Linked DNA regions of Homo sapiens. The main gene of each other region encodes a partner of the protein of the gene in region 4 in a complex. Each region holds a gene or a part of one and is shown on either strand. Other genes may lie near its edges.

What was found.
Region 1: DRC1 (region 4) and DRC12 share a complex: the UniProt entries of both Homo sapiens proteins name them as parts of the nexin-dynein regulatory complex.
Region 2: DRC1 (region 4) and DRC9 share a complex: the UniProt entries of both Homo sapiens proteins name them as parts of the nexin-dynein regulatory complex.
Region 3: DRC1 (region 4) and DRC4 share a complex: the UniProt entries of both Homo sapiens proteins name them as parts of the nexin-dynein regulatory complex.

What each region holds. Positions count from the first base shown.
Region 1 is NC_000011.10:119,189,726-119,192,859, forward strand, and holds the end of DRC12 (dynein regulatory complex protein 12), read right to left. Parts: intron 1,116-3,134; coding exon 985-1,115; intron 917-984; exon of another isoform or gene 842-916; intron 728-841; coding exon 575-727; 3' UTR 529-574; downstream 1-528. UniProt on the Homo sapiens protein: Component of the nexin-dynein regulatory complex (N-DRC), a key regulator of ciliary/flagellar motility which maintains the alignment and integrity of the distal axoneme and regulates microtubule sliding in motile axonemes.
Region 2 is NC_000003.12:197,956,992-197,964,621, forward strand, and holds the start of DRC9 (dynein regulatory complex protein 9), read right to left. Parts: upstream 3,001-7,630; 5' UTR 2,854-3,000; intron 2,729-2,853; 5' UTR 2,538-2,728; intron 1-2,537. Other genes in the region: LMLN (leishmanolysin-like peptidase), read left to right, coding at 3,231-3,449. UniProt on the Homo sapiens protein: Component of the nexin-dynein regulatory complex (N-DRC), a key regulator of ciliary/flagellar motility which maintains the alignment and integrity of the distal axoneme and regulates microtubule sliding in motile axonemes.
Region 3 is NC_000016.10:90,018,676-90,025,721, reverse strand, and holds the start of DRC4 (dynein regulatory complex subunit 4), read right to left. Parts: upstream 3,043-7,046; 5' UTR 3,001-3,042; coding exon 2,998-3,000; intron 1-2,997. UniProt on the Homo sapiens protein: Component of the nexin-dynein regulatory complex (N-DRC), a key regulator of ciliary/flagellar motility which maintains the alignment and integrity of the distal axoneme and regulates microtubule sliding in motile axonemes.
Region 4 is NC_000002.12:26,453,889-26,457,226, reverse strand, and holds the end of DRC1 (dynein regulatory complex protein 1), read right to left. Parts: intron 2,581-3,338; coding exon 2,437-2,580; intron 2,097-2,436; coding exon 1,994-2,096; intron 767-1,993; coding exon 710-766; 3' UTR 516-709; downstream 1-515. UniProt on the Homo sapiens protein: Component of the nexin-dynein regulatory complex (N-DRC) a key regulator of ciliary/flagellar motility which maintains the alignment and integrity of the distal axoneme and regulates microtubule sliding in motile axonemes.

The DNA.
Region 1 (3,134 bases), on a different chromosome or scaffold from region 4:
ATGGGAGTTTTAGAGAGCTGTGTCCCAAGGATGAAGGTGTGGCTGTGGGTCTGGCTAGGATTGAAGCCATCTGGACCTTTTCTAGATATGACTCCAGGACCCTTGAGTGTAATGCAAAAATTTGGAGACCAGCTATGCCTGCCCTCTGTGGGTGCCTTAGCATTGCGGGAGGGTGGTGCTTGGTCACCGTTGCATTTGTTATAGAAATGGCCATTCGCCATAAATCTGACTGCCTGTGTTTGTGTTGGTGGGGGTAAGGGGCAGTGGTGTGAAGGGACCAAAAGGGCCTCAGGCTCAAGGGGTGGGATGCGGCTCCTGCAGGAGAGAGGTTGAGACCTGGTCAAATTTATTTCCTATCAATCACTGAATCTCAGGGATAATGGGTCAACCCAGAACTGAGATGTCTGTATGACAGCCACTCCTAAAAATAAACAACAACAAAAACAAAAAAAGAAGAAAACTAAATAAAAATAAAAATAAAAATAAGATCCACTTCTCTCTGCCAAACGGCCAGAGCCCACAGCTCTATTGAGTTCTACATCAAGACACTTTATTGCTGGGGCCTCAGAGAACACTAGAGACTAGGGGCTGGTGGCCTCAAAGATCCAGGGGGGGTGAGTCCAAACTGGCGTTGCTGCTCCTTGTGCCTGGCGTGAAGTCTCAGTGCTGCCCCATCCCACTGCTGCTTGATGGCTCTCAGCTTGGCCAAGAGCCTGTCCAGACTGTCCTGCAGACATCAATATTTCAGACCCCAGAAAGAGAGAGAGGGAAGGAGTGAGTGCTGCCCCAGGTTGGTTCATAAGCTTTCCTTGCCCAGTAGACATGGTCGTATCCCCTCTGTCTGCCCTCAGGATAGAGCAGGGCTCCCTTGGAGACGCTCCTTCTCCTTAACCCTGGGTTGTCAGTCATCATACGAGCTGGGGTTTGTGGGCATGGGGGAGTCCTGGGTACTGGGATGGCTGGGATCCAGGGGGTGGTGCTTACGTGTAAGATTTCCTCATACTTCGCCTCCATGTCTGCCATGTGGGCCCGAAGCTGAGCCAGGGCCTGGTCCCGCTCTCCGAGAGCTTGTTCAGCCTCTTCCCGGGCAGCTGCAGCCTCCCTTTGGCATGCCTCTGGGGGCAGGCAGGATGAAAGAGAGCAGGATGGTGACACTCTATCCTTGACCAGTCTCTCCAAAGGTATCTGGAAAGGAGACCTCAAATGGGCTCGTTCCAGACTCCCCCAGCATCACCAAATTTCCCGCAGTCCCTGTAAAAGCTGAAGCTCCACTGAGGTATATAGCAGAGAGTGGCGGGCTTGAGATAGAAGGCTCCAAAGTCGGATTACTACCTAGGTGACCACATGCATGTCTCTTTCTGAGCCTTGGTGTCTTCATCTTTTTTTTTTTTTTTAGATGGAGTCTCACTCTGTCGCCAGGCTGGAGTGCAGTGGCGCGATCTCAGCTCACTGCAACTGCCACCTCCTGGGTTCAAGCAATTCTCCTGCCTCAGCCTCCCGAGTAGCTGGGATTACAGGCACATGCCACCATGCCCAGCTAATCTTCGAATTTTTAGTAGAGATGGGGTTTCACCATGTTGGCCAGGATGGTCCCTATCTCTTAACCTTGTGATCCGCCCGCCTCGGCCTCCCAAAGTGGTGGGATTACAAGTGTGAGCCACCGCGGCTGGCTGGTGTCTTCATCTGTAAAGAGAGAATGACACATCCCTCAGGGGCATGCTGTGACCTTTAAACATGATAAATGGATGACAAAGCACCTAGCTAGTATACAGGAGGTGCTCAGTAAACATTGATTCATTGGCCGGGTGCGGTGGCTCACGCCTGTAATCCTAGCACTTTGGGAGGCCGAGGAGGGCGGATTACCTGAGGTCAGGAGTCCGAAACGAGCCCGGCCAACATAGGTGAATCTCCATCTCTACTAAAAATACAAAAATTAGCCAGGCATGGTGGCGCACACCTGTAATCCCAGCTACTCGGGAGACTGAGGCAGGAGAATTGCTTGAACGTAGGAGGTGGAGGTTGCAGTGAGCCGAGATTTGCCATTGCACTCCAGAATGAGCGACCAGAGTGAAACTCCGTCTCAAAACAAAAAACAAAAAACAAAAAAATCCCCAAAACAACAACAGCAAAAACAAAAACAATTGAGTCATTGATTGACTTGGAATTTGAGGTAAAGCAAAGATTAGGAAAGGAACCCAGAGTCTGAATGGCAGATAAGCAGCTCCTGGCCATCTATAGCTAAACCGAAGGCCTTTTTTTTTTTTTTTTTAGTTGGAATCTTACTCTGTTGCCGAGGCTGGAGTGCAGTGGTGCGATCTCGGCTCACTGCAGCCTCCGCCTCCTGGGTTCAAGTGATTCTCCTGACTCAGCCTCCCAAGTAGCTGAGATTACAGGCACACGCCACCATGCTCAGCTAATTTTTGTAATTTTAGTAGAGATGGCATTTCACCATACTGGCCAGGCTGGTCTCAAACTCCTGGCCTCAAGCAATTCTCTTGCCTTGGCCTCCCAAAGTGCTGGGATTACAGGGGTGAGCCACCGCACCCGGTTGAAGGCATTTTTAAGGTATGAAAACTTTGAGACCAAAATTGTGAAAGAGCTCATGTGTCATGCTGAGATATTTCAACATTATTTTGTAAGCAAGAGACAAGAGAAGCAAAGGCTTCCTGGTTTTTAAAAATATTTTTGCTTATTAGGAGTGTTTATTCATTTATTTGGTGAACAGTTATTTAGGATCTACCAGATGCTAGGTCTTGAAGATACAGAAGTAAATAAGTCAAACATTTCCCCTTAGTTTCATTGTAGAAATCAGCTAAACTAAAAGGGAATATGTTTTGCTCACAAGAGACATGGCAGTGGTGGGGAGTTAGGGCTGGACTTGAGAGGAGGAAATGGGGTGTGAGGCCTACATCTTCTTTTTTATTTTTATTTATTTTTTTGAGACAGAGTCTTGCTCTGTTGCCCAGGCTGGAGTGCAATGGCGTGATCTCGGCTCACTGCAACCTCTGCCTCCTGGGTTCAAGCGATTCTCCTGCTTCAGCCTCCCGAGTAGCTGGGATTACAGGTGTGCGCCACCACATCCGGCTAATTTTTATATTTTTAGTAGAGACGGGGTTTTGCCATTTGGCCAGGCT
Region 2 (7,630 bases), on a different chromosome or scaffold from region 4:
TTTTGCAGTTTTGCAGCGTGTATGGGTTCTCTTGTCTATGCTGCAAAAGAATTAACATGCTGGAAATGTATTAGGATAAGAGGGTGAAAGAAAGGATTGGGTAGGAAAAGCACACTGGCTGTTGTGTTATTTGGTCTTCCATCTCCTGGAGACAGGACTGAGAAGGAAAGTTTTTGTAGTAAGGGAAAAGAGTGGGAATACTGTCCAGCTTTCCCACTTCCCCTTCCTCCAGTAACATCCTGTTACAAATCTGCTAACCTACAAAGAGGGTAGTGAGATATACTGACCCAAGAGAAAGCAAGACGCCCTCCCCCAGAGGTCCCTCTGTCACACTGGCAGTTCTAAGAAAGGTTTGGTCAGTCCAATGGTGGTATGCAAGCCAAAGCTGCCATTGTTGGAGTCCCGTGCTTCGTGGACATGGGCTTGTGTTAGTACTCTGCCAGGCTCATTTATTAGGATTGTGGTGGTTTTTTTTTTTTTTTTTTTGAGACAGTCTTGCTCTGTCGTCTAGGCTGGAGTGCAGTGGCGCAATCTTGGCTCACTGCACGCTCCGCCTCCCGGGTTCACGCCATTCTGTCTCAGCCTCCCAGGATTGTGGTTTTAAGGCAAACAAAGTGCACTGATGCTGTATTCACCAGAAGTGAGCAGTACTTCAAGGCCGGAAGTTGGAAGTTGTATATTAGAATGCTAATGAAATTGAACTTGGGAATTACGCAGTCAGCGCGAGGAAGTGCTGATCTTGGACACCCACTCCAAAAGGCCAACATAAGCTAAAAGTACCTACTGTGTTCATTGTGCCAGTTAAGTAGATGTGATCAGTAGTACTCGGGGTATTCAGGGATAGAGGCATGTAGGTATACTGGCTGCGTAACATAAAACCGTAAAGTGTAGAGGAAGAAATAGGGCGGCATCTCAAAGAGGAAATGGCAGGAAGATTTTAGGAACACAAGTGGCTGACTGGAAAGTCCAGAAAACTAAAATGCCACATGAGAGGTCTCCTGTACTGAACTGAGGATCTTAGGCTTAAGATTGTTCTTGAGTGTAATACAACGTCACTGAAGAACTTGATTCACAGGAAATTTTAAAATTTACTCATTTGAGACAGGGTTTCTGTTGCCCAGCCTGTAGTGCAGTGGTGTGATCATAGCTCACTGCACCTTTGAACTTCTAGGCTCAGACAATCCCCTGCCCACAACCTCCAGAGAATCTGGTGCATGCCAGGCACGTCCAGCCAATTAAAATGTTTTTTCGGGGTCCCAGGCTGGTCTCGATTCCTGGCCTCAAGTGATCCCCCTGCCTTGTTCTCCTAAAGTACTGGGATTACAGATATGAGCCACCAGCTCAGATTATTTCAAATCCCAATGGCATCCCAGCATAAACAAGGGAAAATTAGGTGGGCTTTTCAGTCTCAAATGGAGAATTCTAACATGTTTCTGGCTTTGGGGGCTGGATGGATAATGGTGCATTTACAAAGTTGGGGAATCAGGAGATGGTTTTGTGGGAGGAGCTAAAGTTGAATTTGAGGAAGCTGTAAGATGTTAACCTGTGGACATATCCATGAAGACAGATGGGTATTTCAGGTCTGGGTTAGGCATATGGAGAAGTGGATGGTATTCTGAGTGGAACAGACACACGGTAAGTGGTAGGCATCTGAGCAAAGCGGGGGAAAACAAACGGTTGAGACTTTAACTCGAGTAACTTACATGTGCAATGGCAAATGAGACTCAAAAGCAAATACATGCTCTTCCTTACTGAGATGATGCAGCATTTGTAAATAATAAATGTATGTTTTTATGTTTTTCTCCTCCCATATGGAAATTAAGTCAAAAGTACTCAAGTCACCGTTGCCAAAGGAGGAGTCCTGTGGTTTACAGGAAAGGGCTTGCGTGGCTGGTAACTTGTCCACTACACCATTGAAACAGCTTTGCCTCCTGGCTGGGCGCGGTGGCTCACGCCTGTAATCCCAACACTTTGGGAGGCGGAGGCGGGCGGATCACCTGAGGTCATGAGGTTGAGACCAGCCTGGCCAACGTGGTGAAACTACGTCTCTACTAAAAACATAAAAATTGGCCGGGCGTGGTGGCGGGTGCCTGTAATCCCGGCTACTCGGGAGGCTGAGGCAGGGGAATAGCTTGATCCCGGGAGGCAGAGGTTGCATTGAGCCGAGATTGTGTCACTGCACTCCAGCCTGGGCGACGAGTGAAACTCCGTCTCAAAAAAAAAAGAAACAGCCTTTCCTCAGCATAACACTATTGTTACAGCCAGGAGCTTAGGATGACTGGTTCCATTCTTTATTCACAATAGCAATTTATTTGTGGTATTGTAGTGGAAAGGGCACGTTTCCTAAGTTACAAATGTGGTTTGGAATCCCACCTTCCACTAGTTGTGGGATGATACACACATTTAGTGAGTATTTACTTGTAAAATGGTAATACTTAAAACACCACCCCATCCTCGTAGCTGAATCTCCACCCATAGTTTGTAACTTGAGGTTTTCCTTCTTTCCTACTCCTTCATTTCCCAGTATAGTAGCTTACCTATTCAATTCCCGTTGAATGACTTCCAGCTCAGTGAGTTCGTAATTTTACTTCTTAGTGTCATGAGCCACTGGGATTTGTCCCAATTTCCCATTTTGTATAGTTCCTCACGGCTCAGTTTCGAAGGCAAGGTTTCCTTAATGGCCAGGATCCCCCTTATCTCAGGTGCAGTGGCAATTCTTGGCTGGAAACTAAAAGATGGAGTTGAGTAAAACAGTAAACGGTGTATCATAGATTTTTATAGGAAATGGCGTTAGTTAAGTAATGGGCCTAAAGTTGGTGACTCAGGATAAGTAAATGAAAGTATTCCACTCACCTTTTCATACAGAGGACTACACTGAAAGATTTTGCAGAGGGTTGTATGTACGTCTAAACACCTGGCACCTAGTAGGTGCATGTCACTTTGGTAAATGAAAGAACTGAAAAACTGCCTCAAGACACCCACATACGGCCAACGCCCGCTAGCCTTTCTTCCTCCCACAGCCCCACTCACGTGGGCCTCCAAACAGCATTTATTGGCCGGCTTCGCGCCACGAGACGCGATGGACGTGATCGCCGCCCTCATCTTCTGCGGCGAACTTCTAGCGGGTGACGCTGTCCAATCGGAAAGCGCCTTTCCGCCGGCTGGGCCCTCCGTCTACCCCCAGCGGCGAGGGGCGGGGCCGGCGCGGGCGCAGAGGCGTCACGCACTCCATGGTAACGACGCTCGGCCCGAAGATGGCGGCCGAATGGGGCGGAGGAGTGGGTTACTCGGGCTCAGGCCCGGGCCGGAGCCGGTGGCGCTGGAGCGGGTCTGTGTGGGTCCGAAGCGTTTTACTCCTGTTGGGCGGGCTCCGGGCCAGCGCCACATCTACTCCCGTCTCCTTGGGCAGTTCCCCTCCCTGCCGGCACCACGTCCCCTCTGACACTGAGGTAGGGCGACATGGGCGGGAGCGGGCCCTCTCAGGGTAAAGTCACCCAGAAGGAGCAGGCGTAGGAGATAGTGACTGGGAGAAGGTGTCCTGGATGAGAAAGCGAAATTGGGGCAGAGCCTGACTCTTACAGGCCTGGGACCCGCTCTCAGCTCCCTACACCCTGCAAGTTGGCTGTTAGGCGCTCAGAACAGTATCACTTCTGTGCGGAGGGTTGTGCTTAGCAGTAGCCCTCGAGGAGTGGTTTTCAAACTTGAGCGTGCATCACAGTCACCCGACGCACATGGTACAACACGGATTGCCGCCCTCAGTCCCCCACTTAGTGACTCAGTAGGTCTGGGATGAGTCCCCAGAGTTGACAGTTTACGTTCCCAGCTGGTTGGTGAGATATGCTTGTCCGGGGACCACTTTAGGAACCGCTGACCTGAAGTTTCGGGAAGACATTGAACGGAGAGCCAGATAGAGGCGTTGGTGGGACGTTGGGGGCTCACTGGAGACAAAATTCAGGTTTCTTTTCACGTTATGTCGTCACTTTGTTTGCTTTACCCGGTTCCTCTGCTCTGGAAGTGCCTGCCCGCCTCCCATCCCATTTTTCTCTCTGCTTAAATTCTTTGTCTCATTTCAAATTCCCTAACCTCAAGGCAGCCTGCTGAAACCACCACAGCGCAATATTCTTTTCATTAAAAAGTACATCGTGTCTGTACTCCCTCCTGGCATTTAACCAAGTACTGCTATGGGATAATGGCTTATTTTTTAGGCGTATCTTGCCTTTGCAGTTAGATTATAAGGTTCCGTGGGATAAGGTTTGTGTTTCATACTTTGATTCCTTCACAGTATTTAGGTCAGAGGTGGGTCCACGATAATCCATATTCTTTGAGAAAGGGAGAGTACCTGGGGCAGGGCTGCATGCTGATACACCTACACATGTTCAATTCAGCCCAGAAATCTAAAGACACTCATTTTTATGGTAATTTCCCAAAATGTTACATGCATACTCTTCATAACCAAGTGAGCCAAAATATTAACTTCGGAGTTTATAGCTTTTTTGCAGCTTTTATCATGCTGCATTTTCGCTGAATTCTTTAAAAAAAATTTCCCACAAAACCCTGCACTTCTCTCTTTTAATTTGGATTAAAATAAGAGAAAGAGTCCTGGTCCCTAATACGTTTCGCTAGTTCCTCATAGAGTATATAAATACCCTGTCGTCCTCACTATTCTCCTTGTTTTAACCTGGACACGGAGTATAGCCAGGAGCTACAGTGTTCACTGTAGTTACGCTAATGACTATACCTCTGTTCAATGCTACAGGAAATTACATAACTTTTTTGGTTTTGGTGGTGTTGGGGAGCTACAAAACAGTTTTACTTTTTAACTGGTTCTCAACTAAAGCCTGTAAGTTTTGTTTTTACCTTTTATTACGCCGGTACAAACAACATCAGAATAATTTAATGAACCCGCATGGACCCATCACCTAGCTTTAACACCTAGCTTTAAGGTTCCGCCATTCTTGTTTCATATACTTTCAGCCATTCCGCAGCCCCCTACTTGAGTTACTGTTCTTTTGAAGTTTTTTGGTAAAATTTACATATATTGAAATGCCACAAATGTATCCATGCACATCCACATAAAGCATACAACCCATCACAACATAGAACGTTCCCACATCTCCAGACGTTCCCTCCTGTCCTGTGCCAGTCTCCTGCCCACCCCAGGCAACTAGTTTTCTAATTGTTTTTTTTTTAAATACTAGATTAGTTTGGCCAATTCTAGAGCTTCGTGTATTGAATGGAATTATATGGTATGTACTCCTCTGTATTTGGCATCTGCTCAGCATTATGTCTGTGAGATTCGTGTTGTATGTGATAGTAATTTATTCCTTTGAATTGCTGAGTATTCCATTGAATACTTATATCACAATTTGTTTTTCCGTTATCTTGTTCAAAGATGGGTATTTTGGTTTCTTCCAGATTTTAGCTATTATAAATAAAGCTGCTGTCAATATTCTTGTACAGTAATTTTTGTGGATATATGTTTTCATTGTTCTTGGATAAATACCTAGGGGTGAAATTACTGGGTCAAGGGTAGGTGAATGTTTATAAAAAATACTAACCCTTTCTCCAAAATACTCTACCATTTTACACCCCCATCAACAAAATATTAGTTATGGTTGCTGCATATCCTCACCAACAGATGTCCTTTCTAAGAAATCTTTAAATACCCCCTAGGTCATAAAAATATTCTCCTGTGTTCTAGAAGCCTTCACTTTTAGGATTATGATTCATCTGAAATTAATTTTTATATATGATGTGAGATAGGGGATCAATATCCTTTTTTTTTTTTTTTGCCCCATATGGGTATTCAGTTGCCTGGATTATGTACCTCTGTAATAAATATTGAAATCAGACAGTATTGTTATTGTAAGCATTCCTGCTTTGTTCTTCCTTTTCAAAATGATTTTGGCTATTTTAAGGCTTTTATATTTCCATATAAATTTATTTATTTTTTGGCAGGGGGAGGCTCAAAGACAGATCCATATAAATTTTAGAGTCAGCTTCTCAGTTTCTTCAAAAAAGCCTGATGGGTTTATGATTGGGATTGCATTTACTCTATAGATGATTTGGAGATAATTGACATCTAACAGTATCAAGTCTTTCAATCCATGAACATAATGTATGTTTCTCCATTTATTGAGGTGATGCATAATTTTTCTCAGCAAAAATGTATAGATCTTGCATTTTTTCTTCTGTTTTCTTTTCTCTCTCTTTTTTTTTTTTGTTTTGTTTTGAGACAGTCTTGCTCTGTCACTCAGGCTGGAGTGCAGTGGCAGAATCATAGCTCACAGCAGGCTTGAACTCCTGGGCTCAAATGATCCTTCTGCCTTAATCTCCCAAGTAGCTGGGACTCCCAAGTATGCGCCACTACACTTGGCTAATTTTTTATTTTTTGTTGAGACAGAGTCCAGGTGGGTTTTGAACTCCTGGCCTTAGGCGATCCTCCTGCCTCGACCTCCCAAAGTGCCAGGATTACAGGCATGAGCCGCCGTGCCCAGCCAGATCTTGCATGTTTTTTGTTAAATGTTTTCCTAAGTCTTTTATTTTTTGATGCCATTGTCAGTGGAATTATGGTTAAAGTTTTCCAGTTGTTTGCTGCTAGTATGTAAAAATACACTGCTAGTAGGTAGAAATAATTTTTGTATATTAACCTTGTCTTCTGAGACCTAGCTAAACTTATTTATTCTACTAGGGTTTCCTCCCTTACAATTTTTGATGTTAGCAATGTATTAACTATAAATAGGAACAATTTTTGTTGTTGTAGTTTTGTATCATTTATGTATTTTTTCCCCCTTATTGCTCTGGTGAGGACAGGCAGTTCCAGGCTGAGCAAAAGTGAGATAGCACGCCTCCTTGCCATTTGTTCCTGATCTTAGGACCAGTCTCTGACCATTAAGTATGATGTTAACTTTACATTTTTTTGTAGTTCCCTTTATCAGATTGAGAAAGCTCCCTTTGGTTTCTGGTTTCCCGAGGGTTTTTATCCTGAATGGGGACAAATTTTGTCAAATGCTTTTTGTTTTTTCTGGTAATTATTGAGATAATCATATAGTTTCTCACTTTATGAACTGTTATGTGGTAGATTACATTGCATTTTCCAATAGTAAATCAACGTTGCTTTTTTGGGATAAACCTTACTTGGTCATGTTGGCTTTGGTAATTTTCTTTAATGTTTGTTTCTATTTCATTGTTTTCTGTTCTTTGTTATTTCCTTTTTCTACTTATTGTGGATTTAGTTTGCTCATATTGTTAGGCGGAAACTTAGATGACTGTTTTTTAACCTTTTTTTCCTTCTAATGTAAACATTCAAAGATATAAATTTCTAAGTACAACTTTAGCTGCTCTTCACAAATTTTGACACTTTGCATTTTAATTATCATTTAGGTTAAAATTTTTTTTTTGTTTTTTGTTTTTTGTTTTTTTTTTTTGAGACAGAGTCTTGCTCTGTTGCCCAGGCTGGAGTGCAGTGGCGCAATCTCAGCAGAGCAACCTCGGCTTCCTGGGTTCAAGCTATTACCCTGCCTCAGCCTCCTGAGTAGTTGGGACTACAGGTGCACGCCACCACACCCAGCTAATTTTTGTATTTTTAGTGGAGATGGGGTTTCACCATGTTGGCCAGGATGGTTTTGAT
Region 3 (7,046 bases), on a different chromosome or scaffold from region 4:
AGTAGAGACGAGGTTTCACCATGTTGGCCAGGCTGGTCTTGAACTCTCTTTTTTTTTTTTTTTTTTTTTTTTGAGACAGAGTCTTGCTCTGTTGCCCAGGCTGGAGTGCAATGGTGCGATCTCAGCTCACTGCAACCTCCGCCTCCCGGATTCAAGCCATTCTCCTGCCTCAGCCTCCTGAGTAGCTGGGATTACAGGTGCCCACCACCACGTCCGGCTAATTTTTTGTATTTTTAGTAGAGACGGGGTTTCACTATGTTGGCCAGGCTGTACTCGAACTCCTGACCCGTGATCTGCCCACCTAAGCCTCCCAAAGTGCTGGGATTACAGGCGTGAGCCACCGCGACTGGCCCATTTATCTTCATTTATGTTTCATTTAGTCCTGAATGAAAACATTAGGTGGAGCCAGGCACAGTGGCTCACACCTGTCATCCCAGCACTTTGGGAGGCTGAGGCGGGCGGATCACTTGAGGTCAGCAGTTCAAGACCAGCCTGGCCAACATGGTGAAACCCTGTCTCTACTAAAAATACAAAAAAATTAGCCAGGCGTGGTGGCGGGCACCTGTAGTCCCAGGTACTCGGGAGGCCGAGGCAGGAGAATCGCTTGAACCCAGGTGGCAGAGGTTGCAGTGAGCCAAGATCATGCCACTGCACTCCAGCCTGGGTGACAGGGTAAGACTCTACCTCAAAAAAAAAAAAAAAAAGAGAGAGAGAAAATATTATGTGGAAATTTTAGAAAACACTGATGAGAAGAAAACAGAAATATCACCCATATTCCTTGGTCCAAGGATCCAACAGACCAAGGCCCATATTCCCACAACCTAACAGAAACAGAAGTAGTTTGGTTGTGTTTAGTGTTTGCTGTTGTGTTTGCTGTTGCATTTTTTTGTTTTTTGTTTTTGTTTTTGTTTTTTTTGAGATGGAGTCTTGCTCTGTCACCCAGGCTGGAGTGCAGTGGTGCAATCCTGGCTCACTGCAACTGGAACAGGAATTAAAAGAAATTAAAAAGTGTGTAAGCAGAAACTCAGTTATATATAAGAAAACCCAACTCCCCCTGAAAAAGAGAAAGAGCTGGAGTCCTTTAAAAATTAACTGCCTGTTTTTCTGCGGCTAGTGAGCCTTGTCTCTCCTCCCTTCCCAGGCATTGTGAAGACCCTGATTCTGTAGCTGTGCGGCTGCAAGGTCACTAGGCAGATAAACTCAAGTCGCAAAACATGTTTTTCCTTAAAAAGTAAGAAATGATGTAATGCATGTTTCAACTGAACAACTGCCTTTATTTCTCACATCTGAAGCATGCTTCCCCCTGCACAGATCTCCCTCTGCCCCACGAAAAGCTTAAAAGGTAACTTAACTCTTTGTTCAGGGCTCAGTCCTTTGGATTTTAATCTGACTGGGCCGGTGCACCTAAATAATTAATAAATATCCTCCTGAACCCCATCGGTCTCTCTAATTCCTTAAAAATCCCACTACACAACCTCTACCTTCCAGGTTCAAGAAATTCTCCTGCCTCAGCCTCCCAAGTAGCTGGGACTATAGGTGCGTACCACCACACCCGGCTAATTTTGTGTGTGTGTGTGTGTGAGTGTGTGTGTGTGTGTATTTTTAGTAAAGACAGGGTTTCACCATGTTGGCCAGGCTGGTCTCCAACTCCTGGCCTCAAGTGATCCACCCACCTTGGACTCCTAAAGTGCTGGGTTTACAGGCGTCAGCCACTACACCCTGCTTTTTTTTTTTTTTTTTAAGAGACGTGTTGCCAGGCTGGAGTGCGGTGGTGCGATCTCGGCTCGCTGCAACCTCCGCCTCCCAGGTCCAAGTGATTCTCCTGCCTCAGCCTCCCGAGTAGCTGGAACTACAGGCACACGCCACCACACCCAGCTAATTTTTGTATGTTTAATAGATATGGATTTTCACCATGTTGGCCAGGATGGTCTGGATCTCCTGACCTCATGATCCGCCTGCCTCGGCCTCCCAAAGTGATGGGATTACAGGCGTGAGCCACCGCGCCCAGACTCCTGGCCTAGTTTGGTAGTTTCTTTCATAGTCGGTTTTCAGAAGACCCTTCCTGGGTCAGAAAACCCATCTACTTAAATTTAATTCGTAATGTACTGCTCTCTTTTTAATCCCTCCACTCCAAGAAGGCTACCTCATCACAAAGCCCTGAAGGCAGTGGAGGAAGGTTCAGCATTACTTAGCATTTGGGACCTTCACAGCCAGCTGCAGGGACTTGGTGGGGCTCCCAGAGCTTTCCTCCCCCCACCAGCTGAAACCCACCCTGCCACACCTGCCCAGAAATTGAGTTACTGACAATTCCTGTACCACAAAGGGAGAGCCCTTTACAAGAGAAAGACAGACATGGAGCTGATGAGGCCACGAGCTCCGCCTTCCTCTTCTCGGTCTGGGCCTGACTCCTGCCAGGCTTTCCAAGGGAACAGTGGTTCCTGTATCCCAAGGTTGTGCCCTGGGCACTCCAAGGGCACTGGACCTGTCCGGGCCTCCTTGGTGTAGAGGGATCTCTAGCCACTCTGGTGTGCCCCAGGCTCTCCATCCGGGAGACCAAAGGTCTTAGGGTAATTCCTGCCTCCGGCTCTATTCCATGGGGACCCTGGTGCTCTGCAAAGCCTCGTGAGCTGAAACCCTAGGTCCCAGGGATCCAACAGACCGAGTCTGCCATTCCAGGATGAGAGTCCCCTTGACGCATGTTCACTCTTCTGGGGACCGTGCGCCGCCGACCCCGGGCCCTGGGCGTTCTATGACCACCCCTGTGAGCACAGGGCTCTGGACAGCCCAGGTCTCAGTCCCGAGTGCTGCCAGGCCCCGGGGCCGGGAGCATCCTGAGTTTGCCCCACGGAGACCCCCACAAGAGCACCGAGCTCTCAATTCCAGAAACCCAGCGCTCCAGGCCTCCCATTCCCAGGGTCTCCGTGTACCGAGGCCTCCCTGCCCCGAGGTCTCCGGGCCCCTGCCGAGGACCCCAGCCCCGCTCCCGCCCCTGCTCACCATGACGCCAGCGGACAGGCCCAGCGGCGACTCCGGGACCAGGGCGCCCGCCCCCGGAAGCCACGCCGTTTCCCGGCAACCGCTGGGCGATGCCGCGATAAGTCACAAGATCCTCGCGAGACTCCGCCGGGCAGCGGCCCTGCCAAAGGCGGGAGTGCGTCCCTAGAGACGGGCGTCCGGAAGGAACCCGGTTGTGAACGTTGGGAAAATGTCGCCGGCAGCCCAGAAGCCTTTCGCTGCAGGGCATGTTTTGCTTATTGCTGGAACCTAAGCTCCACGAGGGGGGAACCCTTCACTTCTATCCTTCAGCGCCTAGAACAGCACACAGCACGTGCTCAGTAAAGACGTGCTGATGAAGGACCATTGAAGGAATGATCAATCAGCCACCCAAGCCTCTGAAACTTTCCCCAAATGAGATTCAAATCTGGGCAAACACTCTATCCCCTGGGCCTCACTCACCCCACCCGCCCACCTTTGAAGGGCCCTCCCAGCTGCTGCGCTGGTGGGTTTACACACACCTCAAAAACGCAGAAATCGGAAAGAAAAATACGTTCCAGTTTAGTTCCAAATGTTTGAAATCAGTAAGTATTCCTTTCACAAAAATAAACTGCTCTTCCTGAAGAGGCCTCCTCCCCACTCCTCACGGATGAAAAGAAACCAGAGGCTTCCCGACAGGCCCTGCAGAAAACAAACAGCTGCCACTTTCCTTTTCTAACTAATCTCTTGTTCTGAAAACTGCTAGCCATTTTACAATTTCTAAAATGAATCTGCCATCCGTGAAACCACCCTGTTACCTACATACAACCATCTATGTCACCCAGAAAGCTGAGTTTGTCATAAACAGGTGCTTTTTTTTTTTTTTTTTTTTGGAGACAGGGTCTCCTTCTGTCGCCTAGGCTGTGATCACAACTCACTGCAGCCTCGACCTCCTGGGCTCAAGCAATCCTCCCACCTCAGCCTCCTGAGAAGCCAGGACTACAGGTGTGAGACACCATACCCAGCTTTTTTTTTTAAGTTTTTAATAGAGACGGGGTCTTGCTTTATTGCCCAGAGTGGTCTCAAACTCCTGGCCTCAAGTGATCCTCCTGCCTCGGCCTCCCAAAGTGCTGGGAGCACGTGAGCCCCACGCCCAGCCCTAAGCTCTCATCTTTAACATCTTCTTAAAAAGTGGTCATCTACTTGGGAGGTTGAGGTGGGAGAATCGTTTGAGCCCTGGAGGTGGAGGTTGCAGTGAGCCAAGATCACACCACTTCACTCCAGCCTAGGTAACAGAATGAGACCTGAGACCCTGTCTCAAAAAAAAAAAGAAAAGGTCTTGTAGCAGATCTTGTTCTCCCATGTGTCTGGGGATGAAGAGTACAGAATCCATGCTCGTAGAAAGTTGTGCTGGGGGCAAAGTGTGAGAAATGAAAGAAGGCCTGGTGGACCTAGGTCTTCCTGTCCAGCTGGGGGAGGAAGTTGCCACATGAGCTGGGTTTGCTCAGGCCTCAGGCACCCACACAGTGGTGGGAATCTGAGAACCACTGTGATGAGAGACTTCCTGTTTGCCCACCTAAGTCCTGATTGTTCTTGGAGAGGAGCAGCCAGTTGGAAGAACTGCATTGGCTCAGCTTGCACAAAGCAGTGATTTATTTATAGTAAGCCCTGAGGCCTCTGTGAAGTCTGGCTGGTCACTGTGCCTGGGCAACCAGGAGCCAGCATCACTGTGCCAGACTCCCTTGGCCTGAGAGGGGCCTCCTCCCCCTGGGACAGGGTGGTCAGACAGTGACGCTGGAGAGCACAGTGGGGGTAATTATTATAATTTAACACTTACTTCACAAAACCAATATGCTAGCAGCTTCATGCTGATTGGCTTTTTGCTTCAGAAGTCTGGATGAGTGTCCTGAATTAAATAGCTGTATTAACAATAATTCCTTTCAGCAAAAAGGGCAAGAATAGGAGGGTTAGCTCAGGATAGCCTAGACAGGGTACTCATTTTTCACAAGCTAAGAGCAATCCTGGTCTGTCGGTGTGGGCTGCAGAGATGAATCATTCAGGGAGCCCTGAATTGCGGCTCCCTGGGATCCCGACAGGGCCCACTGCGACCTGTTCTTTTCATATTGAATTCGAGTTCAGATTTTTAGAAAAGAGCCTTTTCTTCACATATGTGGCTTAAGATACTTTCATTCAGTGTCAAGCTGTGCAGCTCAGAAACCCAGATAAATGGCATCTGAGTTTCCTGCAAAATCCCAGAGCAAATGTTAATACAAACAAACCGACTGCCCTCTGTCTGATGTCTGATGCTTCCTGCCACCCACTATCCACCAGGTAAACCGCCTCAGGCCACGGCATCAACTCAGTGAAGGCCTGGATGCTGGGTTAACAAGAGTGTTTATGAAGACTAGACTTTTTCTTTTCTTTTCTTTTCTTTTTTTTTTTTGAGACATACAATCATAGCTCACGGCAGCCTTGGACTCCTGAGCTCAAGCTGTGCTCCCACCTCAGCCTCCCAAAGGGCTGGGATTACAGGCATGAGTCAATGCTCCTGCAAACGGACTTTCTTTGAGAGATAAATATTGAAGTACTTACAAATGCAATGATCTAATGTGTATATAATTTGCTTCAAAATGACCCAGCAGTGGAGGGAAGTGAATGAGGACAGAGAAGCAGTGGCCCAGGCCAGGAGCTGGCAATCGCTGAATCTGGGCGATAGGGACATGGGGGTCAGTTTCATCGAAACTGCCTTGGCGCTCTCTGCAGCCCGGGCCCGCCGCCCTCTCCTTACCTCCCATCCCCCATCCCGCCCCTTCCAGCCTCCCAAGCACACGCCCTCGCCCCCACCCGCCCCCCGCGTTAATTCGCGCCATCCAGGGCGCTCTGTGAGTCTGTCATTACCCAGCGCGAGTCAGGCCCCTCCTGTGCCCCTCGCCAGCCCCGAGGGGCGCCCGCACACAGTCGGCGCCCCACACGCAAGTACCTGGAAGAGAACAAGAGGACGCCAGCGGGCGCGGCCGCCAAGTGAGTGCGCAGGAGCCCCGGACGCCCGGCCGGGGTCGGGAGGGCGCAGCCAGGTCCCGGTGGTGTCCGCGGCGGGGCGCGGCCCGCGAGGGAAGGGTCGGCGGGGGAGGGGTCCGCTGGGCCAGGGGCCAGCAGGGGGCGCGCGCGGGCCGGGGCGGGGCCGCACCTGTCCTGCGGCTGGGGGGGCGCCGGGAGGGGGCCGGGGCCCGGGAGCAGCTGCGCGCCCCGCCCCGCCCCGCGGGCTCCTCCCTGCCGCCGCGGCCCCCCGGTTGCTGCCCCGATGCGCTGCGCCCGGAGCCGGGGCCGAGTCGCTGCCGCAGCTGTTGGGGCGCCCGGGCCAGGCGACGCCGCCGTCGCCCGTGCCCCTCCCAGACCGCACCGGCCGCATGGAGCCCCCGGAGGGCGCCGGCACCGGAGGTGAGTTCAGCCCCAGCCCCCGAGACCCCCGCGCAGCGCTTCCCCGCAGCGAGCCGCAGCCCCTCCCCCCAGGGCTCACCCTTCGCCGCTCCCGGGAGTCGCGAAGACCCCTTTGGCAGCTCGGGGTCGTCCGGCGGGCCAGGGGCACCTCCCGGGCGCGGTCCCCGCGCGGGGCTGGGGGCACACGGACCGAGTCTCCGCCCCCTTGTTCTCTGCGCTCCCGGCCCGGGAAGCCGTGCCCGGCACGCTCCTTGGTGGGTGGCCCGGAGTTTCGTCCTGAGCCCCCTCCCAGCCAAGCCAGCCGGTGACCCGGGGAGCGGGGGAGGGGGGTTCCGGGGCTGGAGTTTGGGGTCCCTGTCGGTGGGGCGTGAGGGCGACGCTGGCCGCTTGCAAGCGCGTCCGCTTTGTTCGCCCAGCCGCGAGTCCCGGGGGGCGAGGGCCGTAGACTCGCGGGCAGGGATCCTGCCAGGGGCGAGGGGCTGAGATGGGTCTTGGGGATGTGGGGCATGCACGGGCGCGGCCTGCCGGGGACTCCAGAGCTGCAAGGGTGGCTGGTCCGGGAGTGGCCCAGGCGCACGCTCATCGGGGAGGGTAGGTGCGCGTGGAGCGCTCCCTGCCCTGATGGTGGAGGCCCT
Region 4 (3,338 bases):
TAAATAAAAGAAGTCAAGCACTGAGCTGACAGGTCTGCACTGGTCAAGCTGAGAGGAGCAGCCGCAGGTGCGGGGCAGAGGCAGCAGTTCTCTAGGCTGGCAGATTCAGTACCAGCAGGGCTCCCATGGCCTTTCCCCTTCAAGTGGCCTCTGGTGGCCCAGGGTTCAAGGCAGGCCTCAGGCACAGGGCTGCCCACCCAGGCTGCCCACAGGAGGAGTCTTACACCATAGCCCAAAGGGCACACCAGCCTGGGCCCAGGGGCCCCCAAAGCACCGAAAGAATCCTTCAGGTCTGGGGCCAGTCTGAAGGCTTAAGGCCCCACAAGGGCCCAAAAGCTCTAGCCTCCACCCACAGAAACCAGTTCCCCTGAAAGCAAGAAAGGAGCCCCACGCTACTGGCCTCGGCCTCTGACTCACACCACTATCTGAGCCTGGGGCAAAGTCCCCTCATGACACAGAGGTAGGGGCAAGGGCCTGGTCTTGCTAGACCTGACCTCTTTAAAGAGATTCAGCCACAACTTTAAAAGGCTTTAATCATAATGCAGGACACAGGTAACTCCTCTGGCTCCTTATTTCGACAGGCTATAAAGACAGCCCTGGAAAATCCAGAGAGCAGGCCCAGGTGCGGCCCAGTGGGTGATATGAGCTGGCTCCGGCACAGACACCAGCATCAGGCCAGCCCTAACACATCAGCCTTTGGCGGTCCAGCTCATTTTGTGGGTACCCGCAACACCTGAGTGGGAGGAACTTGCAGTTCAGAGTTGATCTGGAAAAGAAAGGGTGAAAGTCGTTACATTTTTCCCAGGGCCCTCCTTCTTTGCCACCCTTGCGAGCCACGCTGGCTCTCCCATGGGCCTCCAAAGCCCTGCACGCATCTCCTCTCCAAAGCTGAGAGATGCTGAACACCCACAGACTGCCTCCCTGCAGGAGACACGCCTGAGCCTTCTTGCTCAGCTTCTGCTCCAGCTGTGACCTCTGGTAGCGTTCTTCATCTCCCGCCCGTCCATTCTCTGCAGTCTTCCCCTCTCCTCTCTCCACGCACCCATGCCATCCCCAATCTAGCCTGCCCCACCTCTTCCTCCCCCAGCCTCTTGTATACAGTAGCATCTGTGGAAGCGGGAACCATACCGTCCAGAATGTCTGGGTCCTGTCACAGGCCAAGGGTCATTATGAGGCCAAGGTTCACTACAACATCCCACTTTCAGCTGTGGCCTGGGACCTGGGACTGTGCTGGGGCCACGCAGCCCCTGTGGCTGGACTTGGAGCTGGCCTCAGTCACCTCACACGTGTGCAACTAACAGCTGCGTCACGACCTTCCTGGCCTACAGCCCCAGCTGCAGGTGCCCACACCCGCAGAGCAGGAAATGTCAGCAATGGACTTTTTCCTTCCTCCTCTTGCCAGGCCATGGGGAAGTTGTCCACAACTATTGCAGGGTTGGGCACAGATGGGGGCCAGGGAATATCTGCCCCAGCAGAGCCTCCTTCCCCATGCGAGGATGACCCTCCAGTCATATCCCAGGCAGGGAACCGGGGCTGGTGGGTGGAAAGAGCCCAGGCTCTGGACGAGTTGCAAACTCTGCAAGTTGTGATTGTCCTTTGTGTGAAATGAGGAGCATTGTTTCCGCCCTGTCCACCTCACACAGCGGGTGTGAGGATGGAAGAAGAGAGCACAGCTGGAGGCTCTGTAGCTGGGGAGCTGCTCCTGGCTGTGGCACTGCTTCACACAGAGCAGTCCCAGCTGGCCACTGGCACCAGAAACCACAGTATCAAAGAGACACTGTCACACCTGAGCTGTCCTGGAGGAGACTTCAGGCAAGATCTACTCCTTTGGCCAGTAGTTGTCTCAAGGTGCCACTCTTGATTTTTTACATCATATCACAAAGCTCCCTTGCCTCTGACGGGGAGGGGACTCCTCGTTCCCTAATCCCAGCTCCAGTGCCCCTGCCCCACCCGTGTCTCCCGCTGCCCCTCCTTGGAAGGCCCCGCCGCCCACCTTGGAGTTCAGATACTGCTGCAGTAGCGCCTGCAGCTCTGTGTTCTGCTGCTCCAGAGAACTGTTTTCCAGCAGCAGCTTGGCCCTCTGGGTCAGGACAAGGCTTTGGACAGAAAAATCGGTTAGAGGCTCACTGAATCCTCCATCCTCTGCCAAGTAGGGGCCAGGGTCTTGGTGGTTGTACTTTGGCTACAGGTGGAGGGAGACTCCAGAAGCTACACTCTTCACCCAGCCGCCAGGTGAGCCAGGTTAGCAGGAACAGAACAGGCAGGCCAGGGCCCAAGAGCCAACTGCCCCACATGATCCACCCACACAGGAGATGCCAAGGGCAGCTCTTCCCTCCCAGGTTCAGTGGGACAGGGAGGCAGCAAACGCGGCTGCTCCCAACAACCGTTCCTCACCTGCCCGCCAGCACCCTCCTGCTCCATGACATGCACACTTACTGGTACTTCTCCAAGGCTGTGTAGAGGGCATCCCAGAGGTTCTGCTTGGAGGAAGGGATCACTGTGGTCAGGGCCTGCCAGTACTCCGAGTCCTTGGAGTTGTCACGCACATTCTTCTGTACCCTCAGCGGGGCCCGCGAGTCCCTGAAGGCCAAGAGCACAGTGATTGTCATGTCCATTGGGTACTACCCAGGCCCCCAGGCAGTGCCAGTCACAGGCCTACTGCTTTCCCACCTGTCACCTTCCCACTCAGCAGTCCAAGTTTATTAGACGGTGGCAGGTTCTCAGAAAGGACGCATGCTTATTGTCAACGTTCCTGCCTCGGTACCACCGGTACCTTCGTGAGGGCATAATCCGTGCTTCATCCACCCCTCTCTCTCCCAATCAGTTTACCTCACTGGCTTTACAGCTCATCACTGTGCCCATCTCTTGCACCAACACATCCAAAACAGCACTTGAATTCAGTCATGTCCTCTCCATCCCCTCATGACAGCCTTAATCTGGGGGATCCTCACCTCCCACCTGGACAAGCCTCCTGATGCTTTCCCTGTATCCAGCTTCGCCCCTTCCCTGACGCCACAATGATCTCTCTAAAACGCAAGGCTAATCATGGCTCTTCGGCTGCTTCAAATCCTTTTCTGGCTCCCACCCACCAACGGGTAAAGACAAAGATCTTGGGCACATTGGGCAAGGCTCTCCAAGACCTGGCTAGCTCCCCACCCACCAGTGCCACCTCCCAGGCCCTTGACACTCCAGCCAGACCTCCTGTGATGATTCTTGAACAGACCAGACCTTCCCCATGCTGTCATTTCCTGAAATGCCCTTACCTCCATTTTATCTGCCTGGGAACACCTAGTTCCAGTGCCATTTCCTCCCAAAACCCTCTGACATGCCAAATGGAA